Regions from separate parts of the Homo sapiens genome. Here region 2 is linked to region 1. A link means that fine-mapping ties the variant in region 1 to the expression of a gene that starts in the linked region. Tissue or cell type: lung. Region 1 holds a variant in brackets; the other region holds the start of a gene. All regions are shown on one strand. Distances are from middle to middle.

Region 1 (8,103 bases):
CTGCCTCTTTTCTATCCATAGGTGTTGTGATGGTGAACACAGGCCTGCCTTTTCTGGAACACTCCCAGTTTTATGTCATTTTAACTTTTTCATTAAAGGTGAGCTTATGTGGGGAAGTGTGACTTAACTGTAATACCTCTGTGAAGTATCTCGTATGCGTTTGCAAGTTAGAAAAGAAATCCGTTATAAATCCATGGATTCTGAAAACTGGTACCGCCGACAGCTCTGATGCCCCGTTTTAGCCAGACATCGTAGCACCCTTTTTTTCCCTCACTGTTTGCACAACCAGAATTGGGCACCCCAGACCTGAGGCAGGCCGACACACCTCGCCCTTCTCTCCTGCCCTTCCTCCAAGTCCAGTTTTTCCGCAGCAGAATCCTGCTTTCAGTCACTTTTGGGGACCGGAAGGTGTGGAAGGAGAGAATCATCGAGCTGGGTGGTGGCAGCACGCGGCGTGTGCACTGACAGGATGGGCTTGACCTGGGCAGATGCTGGCCGGGTTGTGTGTGGTGCACACTCACCACCTCACCGTGGACACTCACCAGGGCACCCGTCGCTGCAGTGCCTCAGAGGGAGGGCGGCTCTTCCACCCCACGGGAGAAGAACACAAAGCAAAACCAAAGGCTTTGTCGCAGGGGACGTTTCTGGTCTAACAACAGGAGGTTGCTTCCACCAGGCCCCACAGCATTGAGCCCGATGGCGTGTCTTGAGTCCATAGGTTGAATCGAGTGGCGTGCTGGTGAGAGGGACACACTCCAGCCATCTTTTGGAGGACAATCGATGGAAGCACAAGCAGGAGCTGGAGGTTTTTTTTTTTTTTTTTTTTGAGATGGAATCTTGCCCTGTTGCCCAGGCTGGAGTGCAGTGGCACGATCTTGGCTCGCCGCAACCTCCACCTCCTGGGTTCAAGCGATTCTCCTGCCTCAGCCTCCTGAGTAGCTGGGATTACAAGCATGCACCACCACATCCAGCTAATTTTGTATTTTTAGTAGAGACTGGGTTTCACCATGTTGGTCAGGCTGGTCTTAAACTCCCGACCTCAGGTGATCCACCTGCCTCCACCTCCCAAAGTGCCGGGATTATAGGCGTGAGTCACTGCGCCCGGCCTAGGCTGCAGGTTTTATTCCAGGCAAGGATGTGGCTGGCATGGTATCTAGTGGGATGTTATGAAAGCTGGCTTTGTTCTGCAGGATGGCAACAGTCAATACCCGCATGAATAGCAGGCTCTCCCAGCTCTCAGAGCAAGCTCCTTCTGTGATTCCTGGGCGTGTTCTGCAGAGCTCAGGGTCTTAGACACAGTAGACGCTCAGTAAACACGTGTGGAGTGAATGAGCGCAGAGCTCATTGATCAGAGTGCATGTTTGTTGCAGCCGCCAGCACATCCTAAAGCTGGATCCTGAAGTGTCTTGGTCTTTTCCTACAACCTTGCCAGACCTTTAAGCATCTCCTTGTCCCGCCGGCCATGACCGAGCGGAAGCCTCCCACTTCTCAGTGTTCTTCAGCTGGGGGGTTTCTGGCTGTCACACAGACCACATGATATAGGAGGTGGGGGTTTTGTGCCAGAGGATTCCCAGATACGAAGGAATTGGAGCAGAGTCCTGCGGCTGTTTAAAGAGCACAGCAAGGCCGGGCGCGGTGGCTCACACCTGTAATTCCAGCACTTTGGGAGGCCAAGGTGGGCAGATCACCTGAGGCCAGGAGTTCGAGACCATCCTGGCCAACATGGTAAAACCCTGTCTCTAGTAAAAACACAAAAATTATCTGGGCGTGGTAGTGCATGCACCTGTGATCCCAGCTACTCAGGAGGCTGAGGCAGGAGAATCACTTGAACCTGGGTAGTGGAGGCTGCAGTGAGCCGAGATCACACCACTGCACTCCAGCCTGGGAGACAGGGTGAGAGACCCCATCTCAAAAAACAATAAATAAATAAAAAAAAATAAAGAGCACAGCAAAATGATGCAATAATGAGTGGCAGCAAGTGAGGACTCTGTCCAGACAGTCCGCTTGGGACTGGGCTAAAAGAATGTTCTTTCTTTTCTTTTTTTTGAGATGGCGTCTTCCTGTCACCCAGGCTGTAGTGAAATAGCACGATCTCGGCTCACTGCACCCTCCGCCTCCCGGGTTCAAGCGATTCTCCTGCCTCAGCCTCCCAAGTAGCTGGGATTACAGGTGCGTGCCATCACGACCAGCTAATTTCTGTATTTTTAGTAGAGATGGGGTTTCACCGTGTTGGCCAGGCTGGTCCCGAACTCCTGACCTCAGGTGATCCACCCACCTTGGCCTCCCAAAGTGCTGGGATTACAGGCATGAGCCACTGTGCCTGGCCGAGAATTTGGGTTGGAATTTGGCCAGACTTGGGAATTTCTTGACTGTAAGTCACCAATTCAGCGTCTTTTCCAGAAATGACTTTCTATACTTCTCTTACTTCCAGAAGTAAGTTTTCTTCTTATTGTACTTTTTTTTTTTTTCTTTGAGACAGAGTCTCGTTGTGTTGCCCAGGCTAGAGTGCAGTGGTGCTATCTCGGCTCACTGCAAGCTCCATCTCCCGGGTTCACGCAATTCTCCTGCCTCAGCCTCCCCAGTAGCTGGGACTACAGGTGCCCGCCACCACGCCCGGCTAATTTTTTTGTATTTTTAGTAGAGACAGGGTTTCACCGTGTTAGCCAGGATGGTCTCAATCTCCTGACCTCGTGATCCGCCTGCCTGAGCCTCCCAAAGTGCTGGGATTACAGGCGTGAGCCACCGCGCCCGGCCTCCCGGGGTGCTGGGATTACAGACGTGAGCCACGGCGCCTGGCCTTCTTATTGTACTTTCTAAATTTCCCCATAGTCTGCATGTATGACTTTTATAATCATAAAGTGAAAAATAAAATGCCTTTTTAAAAATTAATTGAAGTTTGAGAACATCGTGTCATTTGTTTTAAATCACATAGTGAGGCATGCCACCCATTTCCCCTCCTGTTTATTTTTCAATTAATAAAAGGCAAGGGATGTTTATGCTTGAGGCTTGAGGACCTTGGCTGCTTGTATTGGAATCCACGACTTTAGTCCAAATTGATAAGTGTTCTGGTATTTGTGGAGGCTTTTTATTTATTTTATAAAAACCAGCTTACACGAAGGCACATTTCTAAAGTTGACCACGTAGGCTTCAGGATAAACAGCTTTCTAGTTAGTGCCTCGTGAATAATACGGATATGGATTTACTGGAGGTGTCTTGAATGTGTTCTTATTGCATTGTTTTAAGTTAGTGGGAGGCCAAGATGAAAGGGGGAATTTCAAGATAAGCTGTGTGAGTCATTTGGTGTTGCGGTGGGGAGTTGAGAGGGATGGAATTTGCCTTGGCATTCACGCAGAGTCCTGGTGCAGAAAGTGTGTATCCAAGCAGAAGGTGGCCTGGGCTTGTCGGAGTCAAGGGGCCCTCATTTTGGCTGGGATTTGGGAAGTGAGCATGTCGTGAGTCTAATATTAGAAAACCAGTTCTTCCCCTTCCCCCACCCCCATCCTGAAAGCTTTTCTGTCCCTGTCGCGATGTGTGCCCGGAGTCTCTCCCGCTCCTGTCTCGAGTGCTTTCTCTGTGAGCATTCATTTAATTTACTTCTTGGCTGCCTATCTTTTTACTAATCAGATTTCCTCCTCTGGCC[G/A]AGCTCTTCTCCCAAAGGCCTCAACTTTGTCTTCAGCTGCCTCGCACCAGTTAGGGGGTTCTGTGTTTCAGAGGTGGACGTTGGCTTCTGTAAGTGGTAACTGCAAATCTGGAGTACAGAATCACATCAGATCCACAAGAGTTTTCTGTTCTGTGGTTGGTTGTGTCGTTTCTCGGTCCTCGTGGCCCCAGAATGATCTTGCCTTCTGGAACCTCTCGGGACTTTTTCGCCCACTTGGGAGCTTCGGGCCACAGCCTTTGATGTTAGTGGGAAGGGATATTACAAGTGGTCATGACGACTGAAACTGAGCAGGTTCAAGAGGACGGGCTGGGCTGGGCGCGGTGGCTCACGCCTGGAATCCCAGTACTGAGGGAGGCCGAGGCGGGCGGATCACCTGAGGTCAGGAGTTCGAGACCAGCCTGGCCAACATGGAGAAACCTCATCTCTACTAAAAATATAAAAATTAGCCTGGCGTGGTGGCGGGCGCAGATGACTTATGCGAAGCCGGCCACAACAAGGCACTCCCCACCCACTCAGCTGCTTGTCCGGGGACCACACAGCCCACTCGCTGCCCACTGATGGCAAAAGTCGGTGCCTCTCAGAAGCCTCTTCCGGTGATGGGTCCTTGCTGCTGACCCCACTAGAGCTCACACAGGGCAGGGGCCCAGAACCTGGGGAAACTAGCCCTAGAGATCCTTTAAAATCCAGCCTGTGTTTTCTTAGAAGGGGCTCAGGCCTTCCCCTGAAGCTGCCTTACTCGCTGAGGAGACGACGACTGGACCCAACGCCGCCTCAGAGTTTTGTTTTGCTGAAGACCTGCGGTTTCCAAACTGATGAATAACCAGAAGGACTGGTTAAATGCGGATTCCTGGGCCCCATCCCAGAGTTCTTGACTTGGTAGGTCCAGGCTGGGGCCCAGTAGTTTGCAATTCTAGCAACAGTTCCCAGGCAACCCGGAAGCCGTACGTCCAGGGACCAGAGTTTAAGAACCGCCGCCTAGGACCAAAACAAGGCCGGTTTGGGTTGGTAGCTGGGCAGGTAGACAGACTCTTCAGATCAGCTTTGCCTTAGCTTTTTTTTCCAGGATTCCAAATAATTAAACATTTCTAAAATTGTTCGTTTTGTTTTATTTTTGAGATAGGGTCTTGCTCTATTGCCCAGGCTGGAGTGCAGTGGTGCAATCTCAGCTCACTGCAACCTCCGTCTCCCAGGTTCAAGCGATTCTCCTGCCTCAGCCTCCCCATTAGCTGGGATTATAGGCACCCACCACCACACCTGGCTAATTTTTGTATTCTTAGTAGAGATGGGGTTTCACCGTCTTGGCCAGGCTGGTCTTGATCTACTGGCCTCGAGTGATCCCCCCGCCTCGGCCTCCCAAAGTGCTGGGATTACAGGCGTGAGCCACTGCGCCCGGCCAAAAATTTTTTTTTTTTTTTTTTTTTTGAGACGGAGTCTTACTCTGTCGCCCAGGCTGGAGTGCAGTGGCGTGATCTCAGCTCACTGCAAGCTCCGCCTCCCGGGTTCATGCTATTCTCCTGCCTCAGCCTCCCGAGTAGCTGGGACTACAGGCGCCTGCCACCACGCCCGGCTAATTTTTGTATTTTTAGCAGAGACAGGGTTTCACTGTGTTAGCCGGGATGGTCTCGATCTCCTGACCTCACGATCCGCCCACCTCGGCCTCCCAAAGTGCTGGGATTACAGGTGTGAGCCACTGCGCCCGGCCAAAAATTTTTTTAAAATAAATAACATGTGCTTATGGCGAAAACAAAATCAAGTAGTATACATAGGCTTATTATATGACTTTATCTTTCTTGTTTTTTTTTTTTGAGACAGGGCCTTGCTCTGTCACCAGGCTGGAGTGCAGTGGTGTGATCTCTGCTCACTACAACCTCCGTCTCCCAGGTTTAAGCATTTCTTCTGCCTCAGCCTCTCCAGTAGCTGAGATTACAGGCACACACCACCACACCCAGCTAATTTTTTTTTTTTTTTTTTGGATGGAGTCTCGCTCTGTCGCCCAGGCTGGAGTGCAGTGGCGCGATCTCAGCTCACTGCAGCCTCGACTTGCTAGGCTCAGGCAATTCTCCCACCTCAGCCTCCTGTGTCGTTGGGCCTACAGGCGTGCGACACCACACCCGGCGAACTTCAACATTATGTGTTGGTTTTCTGCTAGGCTAGAGATCGATTTAGCTCCCTTAAAAGCAAACTCACCAGCCGGGTGCGGTGGCTCACGCCTGTAATCCCGGCACTTTGGGAGGCTGAGTCGGGCGGATCATGAGGTCAGGAGTTCGAGACCAGCCTGACCAACATGGTGAAACCCCATCTCTACTAAAAATACAAAATTAGCTGGGCGTGGTGGCTCACACCTGTAGTCCCAGCTACTCAGGAGGCTGAGGCAGGAGAATCACTTGAACCCGGGAGGCAGAGGTTGCAGTGAGCCGAGATCGCACCACTGCACTCCAGCCTGGGCAACCAGAGCGAGATTCTGTCTAAAAAAAAAAAAAAAGCAAACTCAACTTTCTTTGTCCTCTTGGTATACCACCATTTACGGTTTTCCTGGTTACACTTTTAGCATTTAATAACATGTTTATGCCTTTACTCCTTATCCTTCAATAGGACTTTGGGAACGTTGGTGTCTTTCTATCCTGCCCATCAGGTCTCCTGCACTTCCTTCCTATTTTTTGTACCTTTAGCTTTGTCAAGGTTGTTCGTATTTACATTGTGTTGTGTCACCGGGATTCATGCTTTGTGTGTAGTTGAAAATCAGCCAGTCAATCAATAGGGGCATTGTTGTGTCTGTAAATATTGTTTGTGGCAAGTTCAAGTGGTATTTTTTTTTCTTTTTTGAGACGGAATCTCGCTCTGTCACCCAGGCTGGAATGCAATGGCACGATCTCAACTCACTGGCAACCTCCGCCACCCGGCTTCAAGTGATTCTTCTGCCTGAGTCTGCTGAGTAGCTGAGATGACAGATATCCGCCATCACACTGGCTAATTTTTGTATTTTTAGTAAAGATGGGGTTTCACCATCTTGGCCAGGCTGGTTTTGAACTGTTGACCTCACGGTGATCTGCCTGCCTCAGTCTCCCATAGTACTGGGATTACAGGTGTGAGCCACTGCACCCAGCCTGAGTCCCCTTTTTAACTTGGAGAGTCCCCTTTCCTGGGAGTTACCAGTCCTCCTCCATTCCAGACACAGGTGGTTCTCTGGGTCGGCTACACAGCTGTCATTCTGGAACTTTCTTCGGTACTTTCCTGAGTTGGATTTTATTCTAACCCCCGTCATTGATTGATTCCAAAGTTTTTTTTTTTTTTCTGTAGTTCAGATACCAGTTAGATGTGTTACCAAGGAGATCTTAAAGAGCAAACTGCATTTTCGAGAGCAGAGCTTTAAAATTTAGTATGTGAGTTCAACAGGTTACGTGTAAATGGGAATCAGCTGTCTTTGGATTAAACACTACTACACAGTTTTTTTTAAGAAGATTAAAAACGGAAGTGAAGCAAGGATTCCAAACGCTCTTTCCAGAGCAGCCCAGCTGCTTTGCAACCTGGACTTGAGCCTCCTCCGGTTGGGTCAGTCTGGAATCAGAGCCGCCTCCAGGGATTGAGGGATGCGTGGTAGGTATGGTGGGAAATGCTAAGCTAAGGTTGAACCCAAGTCCTGAGTTGAAATCCCGGTTTTAGTTCCTGTTAGCTGGTTGATCGCCCTTCTATTTTGGACAATAAGCCCAGCCTTCCTGGAATATTGGGAAGGTTAAATAAACCAGAGGGTAGGGGGGCACACTGGAAAACTGGGATGTTCTTCACAGACAGGTTGTCATTGTGAAGCTGTGAGATCAGATGTTGGATCTTGCTACAGGAGCTAAACCTGCAAAAGCTGTAAGTGAAGACCGAGCTGGAGTTTCGTGCACAGTCAAAACGTGTAGCCAATTGGACATATTTAATAACGTGAACCAGTGTTTTCCTGCAGGACTCACCAACTCAAATGCCAGTAGAGGGCCAGGCAGGTGAAGCGAGTGGCCTGGGCCAGGTGGTGGGGGACAGAGTGGAGGGCCGCAGCCAGCCCTCGGGGAAAGCCGGCGCTCACCTCCAGCTGCCTGTTGCCGTAATGAAGGCCGACGTTGCCAGCTCTTCTGATTTTTCAAGCTAACAAACTGGGTTTTTATGTGAAGCTAGTTAAGTTTTACATGCTGTTAGCCAGTTAAAATTTTTCTTGACATTGGGCAAAGCCAAACAAAGCACATATGCCATTCACTAATTTAAGGCCTCGGCTTTACTCTGTGGGAATTAAGTGTGAATTGCAAACAGTTCCTAAAAGTTATGATGTGTATTGCATTTATACAGCTGATTACGCGTTTAGGCCATTTGCTCATCTGCTAGTCTTCTTGATATCTGCACATGTGAGCGGTATTCTCCAGTATCTTTTATTTCCTTAATTATTTTTTGAGACAGAGTCTCACTCTGTC
Region 2 (8,103 bases), 47 kb before region 1:
CTAACACTCTTTCAGTAGTGCCTAACCCACGTACCCAGTGCATGGGCCTTTCAGATAAGATTTGGATGAGATGATAAAACATTGTAACCCATTTACAGGATTTCAAAAGATGTCTAGTAACTATGTGTGTGTGTGTGTGTGTGTGTGTGTGTGTGTATATATATACTTTTTTTTTTTTTTTGAGATGGAGTCTCTCCCTGTCGCCCAGGCTGGAGTGCAGTGGTGCGATCTCGGCTCACTGCAAACTCCGCCTCCCGGGTTCATGCCATTCTCCTGCCTCAGCCTCCCGAGTAGCTGGGACTACAGGTGCCCGCCACCTCGCCCGGCTAATTTTTTGTATTTTTAGTAGAGACGGGGTTTCACTGTGTTAGCCAGGATGGTCTCAATCTCCTGATCTCATGATCTGCCCGCCTCGGCCTCCCAAAGTATTGGGATTACAGGTGTGAGCCACCTCACCTGGCCTAGTAACTTAATATATATGATATGAGTAGCTTTAAATGTTTTCACCAAGGCCGGGTGGTGGCTCATGCCTGTAATCCCAGAACTTTGGGAGGCTGAGGCGGGTGGATCACTTGAGGCCAGGAGTTTGAGACCAGCCTGGCCAGTATGGTGAAAACCCCGTCTCTATTAAAGATACAAAAAATTGGCCAGGCTTGGTGGCGGACGCCTGTAATCCCAGCTACTCCAGAGGCTGAGGCAGAGAATTGCTTAAACCTGGAGGGGCGGAGCTTGCAGTGAGCCGAGATCGCGCCACTGCACTCCAGCTTGGGCAACAGAGCAAGACTCTGTTGCAAAAAACAAACAAACAAAACAAAACAAAAAAATTAGTGCATGCCAGTAATCCCAGCTATTTGGGAGGTGGTGCATGCCTGTAATCCCAGCTACTCGAGAGGCTGAGGCAGGAGAATCACTTGAATCTGGTAGGCAGAGGTTGCAGGAGCTGAGATCGCACCACTGCACTCCAGCCTGGGCAACAGAGTGAGACTCTGTCTGTAGGGACCAGCCCCACAGGGTCAGTGGGTCTCTCCCCGTGTGCGGAGACGAGAGAGTGTAGAAATAAAGACACAAGACAAAGAGATAAAAGGCAGCTGGGCCTGGGGAACCACTACCACCAAGTCGCGGAGACCGGTAGTGGTCCCAAATGCCAGGCTGCACTGATATTTATTGGATACAAGACAAAGGGGCAGGATAAGGAGAGTGAGCCATCTCCAATGATAGGTAAGGTCATGTGGGTCACGTGTCCACTGGACAGGGGGCCCTTCCCTGCCTGGCAGCCGAGGCAGAGAGAGAGAGGAGACAAAGAGAGAAACAGCTTCCACCATTATTAGAGACTTTTAGTACTTTCACTAATTTGCTACTGCTATCTAGAAGGCAGAGCCAGGTGTACAGAATGGAACATGAAGGCGGACTAGGAGCGTGACCACTGAAGCACAGCATCACAGGGAGACAGTTAGGCCTCCGGATAATTGTGGGCGAACCTGCAGTCAGGCCCTCCACAAGAGGTGGAGGAGTAGAGTCTTCTCTAAACTCCCCCCGGGGAAAGGGAGACTCCCTTTCCCGGTCTGCTAAGTAGCGGGTGTTTTTCCTTGACACTTACGCTACCGCTACACCACAGTCCGCCTGGCCACGGGTGTCTTCCCAGACGCTGGTGTTACCGCTAGACCAAGGAGCCCTCTGGTAGCCCTGTCTGGGCATAACAGAAGGCTCGCACTCTTGTCTTCTGGTCACTCCTCACTATGTCCCCTCAGCTCCTATCTCTGTATGGCCTGGTTTTCCCTAGATTATGATTATAGAGCGAGGATCATTATAATATGGGAATAAAGAGTAATTGCTACAAACTAATGATTAATGATATTCATATATAAGCCTATCTAAGATCTATATCTGGTATAACTATTCTTATTTTATATTTTATTACACTGGAACGGCTTGTGTCCTCGGTCTCTTGCCTCAGCGCCTGGGTGGCCTGCCGCCCACACTGTCTCAAAATAAATAAATAAATAAATAAATAAATAAATAAAGTTTTCACTAAAAAGTGATGCTTTCTGTGTGTGTTTTATAATATTGTCCCTACAGTGGCACAGACTTTCAGCATGAAAGTCTCCTGAGAATTAAGGTGGAATTCGACTTTGCAGTAGGATTCTAGGGTGTTCGAAGGCGGTCCTCCATCTAAGATCTTACCTGTGTCATTAGCAATACCAGCAGGTGACTAAGGAAGTGGATATAACTTGTAGAGACGCCAGTCCACTTTCCGCTCCCATCTCCACCTCTCCCAATTGTTTTATATGGTAACATTTCACCAAGCTGGAACCCTGCACCATTCCTTATTCTACCCTAGAAAAACGGAGAACCTTCGATGTGAACACTTACGTTTTGTGCCAAAAGCTTGAAGTTCTATTCTGAGGTTTAAATTAGCTCCCGCAAAGCGTCCTATCATTTGTGTATGTGGAAAGCTGCTGTAAAATAAAAGCATTGTGCCTGGTGTCCCGGCAGTGTCTTTTCACAAATGGAGTTTGGTCGGCCTCATTTTTCACTCTTTCCATTAGGTGGCGATGGATGCACAGGAAATATCCTCCGAAGCGGCGGTGGAAGCTCTGAGAGGGGCGGGTTTTCAGCTTTTATTTTTTTGCTTTCGCTGAGTCGTCAGTAGCTGATCCACACCGGCGGCCTGTTACTGTGGCTGGGCCCGGATCTGCACCTGCTTCGTGCACCAGTGGGTTGGGTTGGGGGGAGGCGCTGCGTGGCCAGAGTACTCGCCACGGACCACCTGTTTTTTTGTTTTTTTTGAGACGGAGTCTTGCTCTGTTGCCCAGGCTGGAGTGCAATGGAGCGATCTCGGCTCACTGCAGCCTCCGTCTCCCGGCTTCACGCCATTCTCCTACCTCAGCCTCCTGAGTTGCTCGGATTACAGGTGCCTGCCACTACACCCCGCTAATTTTTGTATTTTTAGTAGAGGCGGGGGGGGGGTGTCACCATATTGGCCAGGCTGGTCTCGAACTCCTGACCTTGTGATCCACCCACCTCGGCCTCCCAAAGTGCTGGGAATTCAGGCGTGAGCCACCGCGCCCGGCCCAGACCACCTGTTTAATCCAGCTTCTCCCTAAGCATTGGGGAGCATCCTGCCAGCTGGTAGGAAAAAAAAAATCTCTAGAAATGTTCTCAACTATCCATAGACTTGACATGAGGATGGAGCGGATTCAGGAGCGCGGCCAGCATTGGTCTGGAGGCCCCGCGGCGTCCTTTGCATCCATTTGTGGGGCTGGAAGACAGATTCGCTGGGGGGAGAGGCCCCGGCGACCCCTGGACGGAAATCCCACACTGAGACCTGGCACCCTAACCAGACCCCACCAGAAGCTGCGAGGGCGTCCTCGGCCCCCTTAGAACAGCTTGGAACACACAGAGGAGTCAGTGTCCAGCCAGGCCCGGCCTGATGCAGTGAGGACGGCGGGTCCTATAAGCATCTCAGGGTCAGTGGGGCCCGGAGCGGCCTAAGGGTCAGGCTTCGTGCAGGGAGAGGAGGAGGGAAAGGCCGGGGAGGAACAGGAAGAGGGTGAAGAGCTCCGCGGGGAGGGGGCGGGATCCCTGGAGGTCTGGAGGGAATTTAGAACTGGGGAGGAGAGAAAATGCGGGCCGGGCTGCAGCCCGGGAAAGCGCCGGCTCAGCGGGCCCTTCTCCTTTCTTCACTTCGGCCGTGGGCTTTCCAGGGAGAGTGCGGCGTTTCGGGTCCGGCTTCTCGCCCAAGCAGTCACCCCGCGCACCGCGGCCGGCAGCTGCGGACCCCGCCTGGGCGGAGAGCTCTGGCCACCGCCGGCCGCAAACGGGGCGTGGCGAGGGCGGAGGGGGCGTGGCGAGGGCGGGCGGAGGGGCGTGGCGAGGGCAGCCGAAGGGGCGTGGCGCGGGCCGCGGAGGGGGCGTGGCAGGGCGGGGGAAGGGGCGTGGCGCGGGCAGGCGGAGGGGGCGTGGCGTGGGCGGCCCTACTGGGCCGGGCTCTGCTCTCCCCAGCGCCTGCCGCCGACGCCGCCGCCTCCTCCCGCCGCGCGGACCGTGGAGCGGGGTCGCAGCCGCCTGCCCGCCCTGCGGTGGGCCAGGATGTCGGGCTTCCTGGAGGAGCTGCTCGGCGAGAAGCTGGTGACGGGCGGCGGCGAGGAGGTGGACGTGCACTCGCTGGGCGCCCGCGGCATCTCGCTGCTGGGTCTCTACTTCGGCTGCAGCCTCAGCGCCCCCTGCGCGCAGCTCAGCGCCAGCCTGGCCGCCTTCTACGGGCGCCTGCGGGGGGACGCGGCGGCCGGGCCGGGGCCGGGAGCGGGGGCCGGGGCGGCGGCGGAGCCCGAGCCGCGGCGGCGCCTGGAGATCGTCTTCGTGTCCTCGGACCAGGACCAGCGGCAGTGGCAGGACTTCGTGCGGGACATGCCGTGGCTGGCGCTGCCCTACAAGGAGAAGCACAGGAAGGTGAGCGGCGCGGGCCTCGCCGGCCCCTGCCCGCCCCCCACGCCCGTTACCCCTGCCCGCCCCCCACGCCCGTTACCCCTGCCCTCCGCCAACCCCGTTGTCCCCCTGCCCGCCCTCCACCCCCCGACCCCTGCCCCCAGTCCCCCGCCCCCCGACCCACTGTCCTCTCCCCGCCCCCCACCCCGCCGTCCCCGCCTCTGCCCCCCCCCCTTCCGCGCTGTGCCCGCACCCTCATCCCAGGACCCCTCTTTGGTTCGAGTGCTGCGCTGCGCCCGCCCTGGAAAGTTGGACCCCCCTCGGCCCCCGGGATCCCGGCTCGAGCCCCTCCGTCCGCACACGCTGGGAGCCTCGGGTGGGGGCGGCTGCGCTCGGGGATCCCGGTTCCGCGACCCCTTCACCCGCGAGCAGAGGCGCCAGGCCCTTCCTGCCTCCGCCGCCGACCCCCGCGGATTCCCACAGTGGGGAGGGGAGGGGAGGGGAGGGCGCACGCCCCCCGCCCGTGGCGCCCAAACCAGCGCGTTTCCTTTCTTTCCGGGAGAAACCTGCCTTCCCGGAGCCCCTTCCCCGGGGACCGGGGACCTGGGGGCCGAGGCCGAGGTCAGGAGAGGCGGCCGGTGACCGTGGCCGTGGCTGTGGCCGAGAAGGGCGCTCACGGCTCCGTCTCCCGCCCCCGCCTCCCCCGCCCCAGGCTGAGTTCGCGGCCACCGGGGAGCTTTGCATTGTCTGGCCGTCCAGCCTCCTCCCCAGACGCCTCCCGGGCGCGGGAACAGCCCGGGCTGTGCAGAGCTCAGCTGCGTGGTGGCCCCTGTGGTCCCGGGGTCTTCGAGTTAAGGGCTGAGCTGACCCCATCGATGCACATTGACTGGAAGAAGGAGGATTTGGGGAAATGGATACTTTGCTGTCAACTTCTCGTGTCTCCCAGTTTGCTGCCGAGTTGAGTTTGGGTTTCTGAGTGTGTCCCTTGGGTGAGGATGTCTGTCTCTGTGATAATAAAGCACATCCAGGACATTTTGTAATGAATGGAGTCAGAAAAAGTTTTGGAGCGCTGTTGCTTCGTGAGTGTATATGATGCAACGTGTGAATCCAGCCCCTTTCCCTTTTTGAGGAAAGCCTGTTTCTGGAGTGGACAGAAGGGCTATTCTGGGGGCGTTTAGTTTCCTCTGGGGAGCATGGCGAGGCGTGCCACGTGTTCCTTTTATATGTGCAGAATCTTGTTGAGAAGCATGATTTAGATTTACTGGGAGCAAAAGGCTTACACTGTGACCCCAAATGTCTTGAGTAAATCATCCATCCCGAAGCAGTGGGAGGTAGAGATTCGAGATTTAAAGTATGAAATACAGTTGATCCGATGCAGTTTGTAAATTTCATATTGGGAAAACATAGGTTCACTAACCACTCAGAGGCAAGAGTTGGCATTTTTACTGCTTTTTAGGTTATTTTGCCCATTTTGATTGACATGCTTGATATAGTATGAATATGCATGGCCAGTACTTTTTGATTCAAAATACGAGAATCCTTTGTTTTCCTTGGTGGTGGTTTTTGTGATACGTTCGTGGAGAAATAATGTTCAGAAAGGGATTTGCCAAAAAACATTTTCATTGTTACGGCAAGTTTCTGTTGTAGACTAAAGTCTACTTAAAATAATGTCCTTATCCGGCAATACAAATGATTTCTAGCTTTTGAAAACATAGAATTATGGTAAAATGTTACAGGCTTAACAGCCTATTGTTGTGTTTTTTACTGAAGAGGAAATACATTTTTTGGATAGTAAAAATATGGAGCAAACAGATGTTTTGCAAATGCTTAGAGCTTTTTCCGAAAAAGGAGAATATTTGATAGGACATGGGCCATGGCTGGCTCTCTATACCCTGGACAGGCTCTTTGCATGACAAAAAGTATTCTGCGGCCCTAGCCTGGACCTGCTGATTCCTCCATGATGAGAACCTGGATGACACAGGGCAGACTCTCATTTGAAAATACCGTTGAGAGTGCTGGACGTGCCCAAACCCTGGTGCGTTAGCATCTTAAACATTTTATTTTTTGGCCCAGAGTTTTTCTGACTCACATCCTATACTTTATTCTCTAAAACCAGTCCAGTTTTCAAGGAGGTAGTTTCTTTCCTTGGTCGTGAACAAACCACTCAAGATCTTTCTCGGGGATATATACCAGGTAAAAAGACTCCAGCTGTCCTTCTTATGGAACACATACTCTTGGAAATTACAAAAGCTACGTGCTGATTTTAAAAGGAATTATTGCCGGGTGCGGTGGCTCATGCCTGTTATCCCAGCACTTTGGAAGGCTGAGGTGGGCGGATCACCTGAGGTCGGGAGTTCCAGACCAGCCTGACCAACATGGAGAAACCCCGTCTCTACTAAAAATACAAAATTAGCCAGACCTGGTGGCGCATGCCTCTAGTCCCAGCTACTAGGGAGGCTGAGGCAGGAGAATCGCTTGAACCTGGGAGGCGGAGGTTGCGGTGAGCCGAGATCGCACCATTGCACCCCAGTCTGGGCAACAAGAGCGAAACTCTGTCTCAAAAAAAAAAAAAAAGGAATTATTTTCCCCCTTGAAACCAAAGAGATGTGGAACAAATGCCTTTTCTGTAACTGAGTTTTTGTCTCATTTGAAGTTAGGGTGCTTAGAAGCCCGTGAGCTAATGATGCTAATTTCCCCATCAGAACAAGTGAAGAGCCGGAGTTCTCCCAGCTGAGGGCACTGGATGGGTGAACACGTCTTGTGGATGGACTCTATCCGTGTCATTTCGCCAATGATAAAAATAACTCTAGAGAAGGGAATTTTGTTTTACACTGAAGGGAAACCAGAGTTCCAGATTGCTAATTTTTTTTAAATTCTCATTAACATTTGTTCTTTAAGCCCATGCGTATACTTCTTCCCATTGGGATAACAAAGGGTATGGTTCTAATTAGTTATTGGCTGGCATTTCTCTAAAGAAAATTGAAAAATTATGGTGGGGAAAGAAAATGCTGTGTGGTATTTCTTTTTTTCTTTTATTAATTTCTCCTTTATATAGTTAAAAAAAACCTGGGGATGACCGTATATGTTAAGCCTGCATTTTGCCTGGTTCCTCTCACCTTGACAGGAACTGTGAGAAAACACCAAAAAAAAAAAGGACAAAAATGTAAAAAAACATTCTTTATACAAAATTGTCCTGTTTCTGCCTGTTGTCATGGTAGGTACAAAAGTAATTGAAGCTTAATTTTTTTGGCTTCCAAAACACATATTATTTCAGCTTCCAAAACACACATTATTATATAGCTGTGCATAAATTGTAATTAGATGGTAATAGAACTTTGAGAGCATTTATAACAATTTCATCAGCAAATCTATAATCCTGAAGTTAAGGCAGTTAGACTTGTTTTAATAAGTAGGTTGGTAGATGATTTTCACATTTCTAGAGAGAAGGAATGTGATCGATAGTCAGGAGGTGGTGAAATTTGGACTTTGGGGATTTGGTCTTCCCTTTGGATTAGTATGTTACTCACTCGTCAAGACTGGAGAGGTCCGTCTCCGGGATCCACTTCAGCCTCATAGAAGTGAGCACTCTTTTGGTGTTAAAGTCGCAGAGCTCAACTTTGTCTGGGCTGGATGCCTGATCAAAAACATATGGTCAGTGTGGGTGCACTGACATCCAAG

The links. PIP is the estimated chance that this variant, and not a neighbour inherited with it, causes the effect.
Region 2: it holds the start of NXN, and the variant in region 1 is fine-mapped to the expression of NXN in lung (TOPMed, PIP 0.95).

What each region holds. Positions count from the first base shown.
Region 1 is chr17:928,815-936,917 of GRCh38, reverse strand. All of the region lies in intron 1 of NXN (nucleoredoxin), which reads left to right. Among named protein-coding and RNA genes, the nearest start is that of NXN, 47 kb to the left of the region's middle. The variant G/A (reference allele first, on the strand shown) is at 3,641.
Region 2 is chr17:975,665-983,767 of GRCh38, reverse strand. NXN (nucleoredoxin) reads left to right here and starts at 3,992. Exons shown (of 8, transcript NM_022463.5): 1 at 3,992-4,449. The coding sequence starts at 4,090. RefSeq lists enhancers at 2,425-2,719, 4,144-5,079.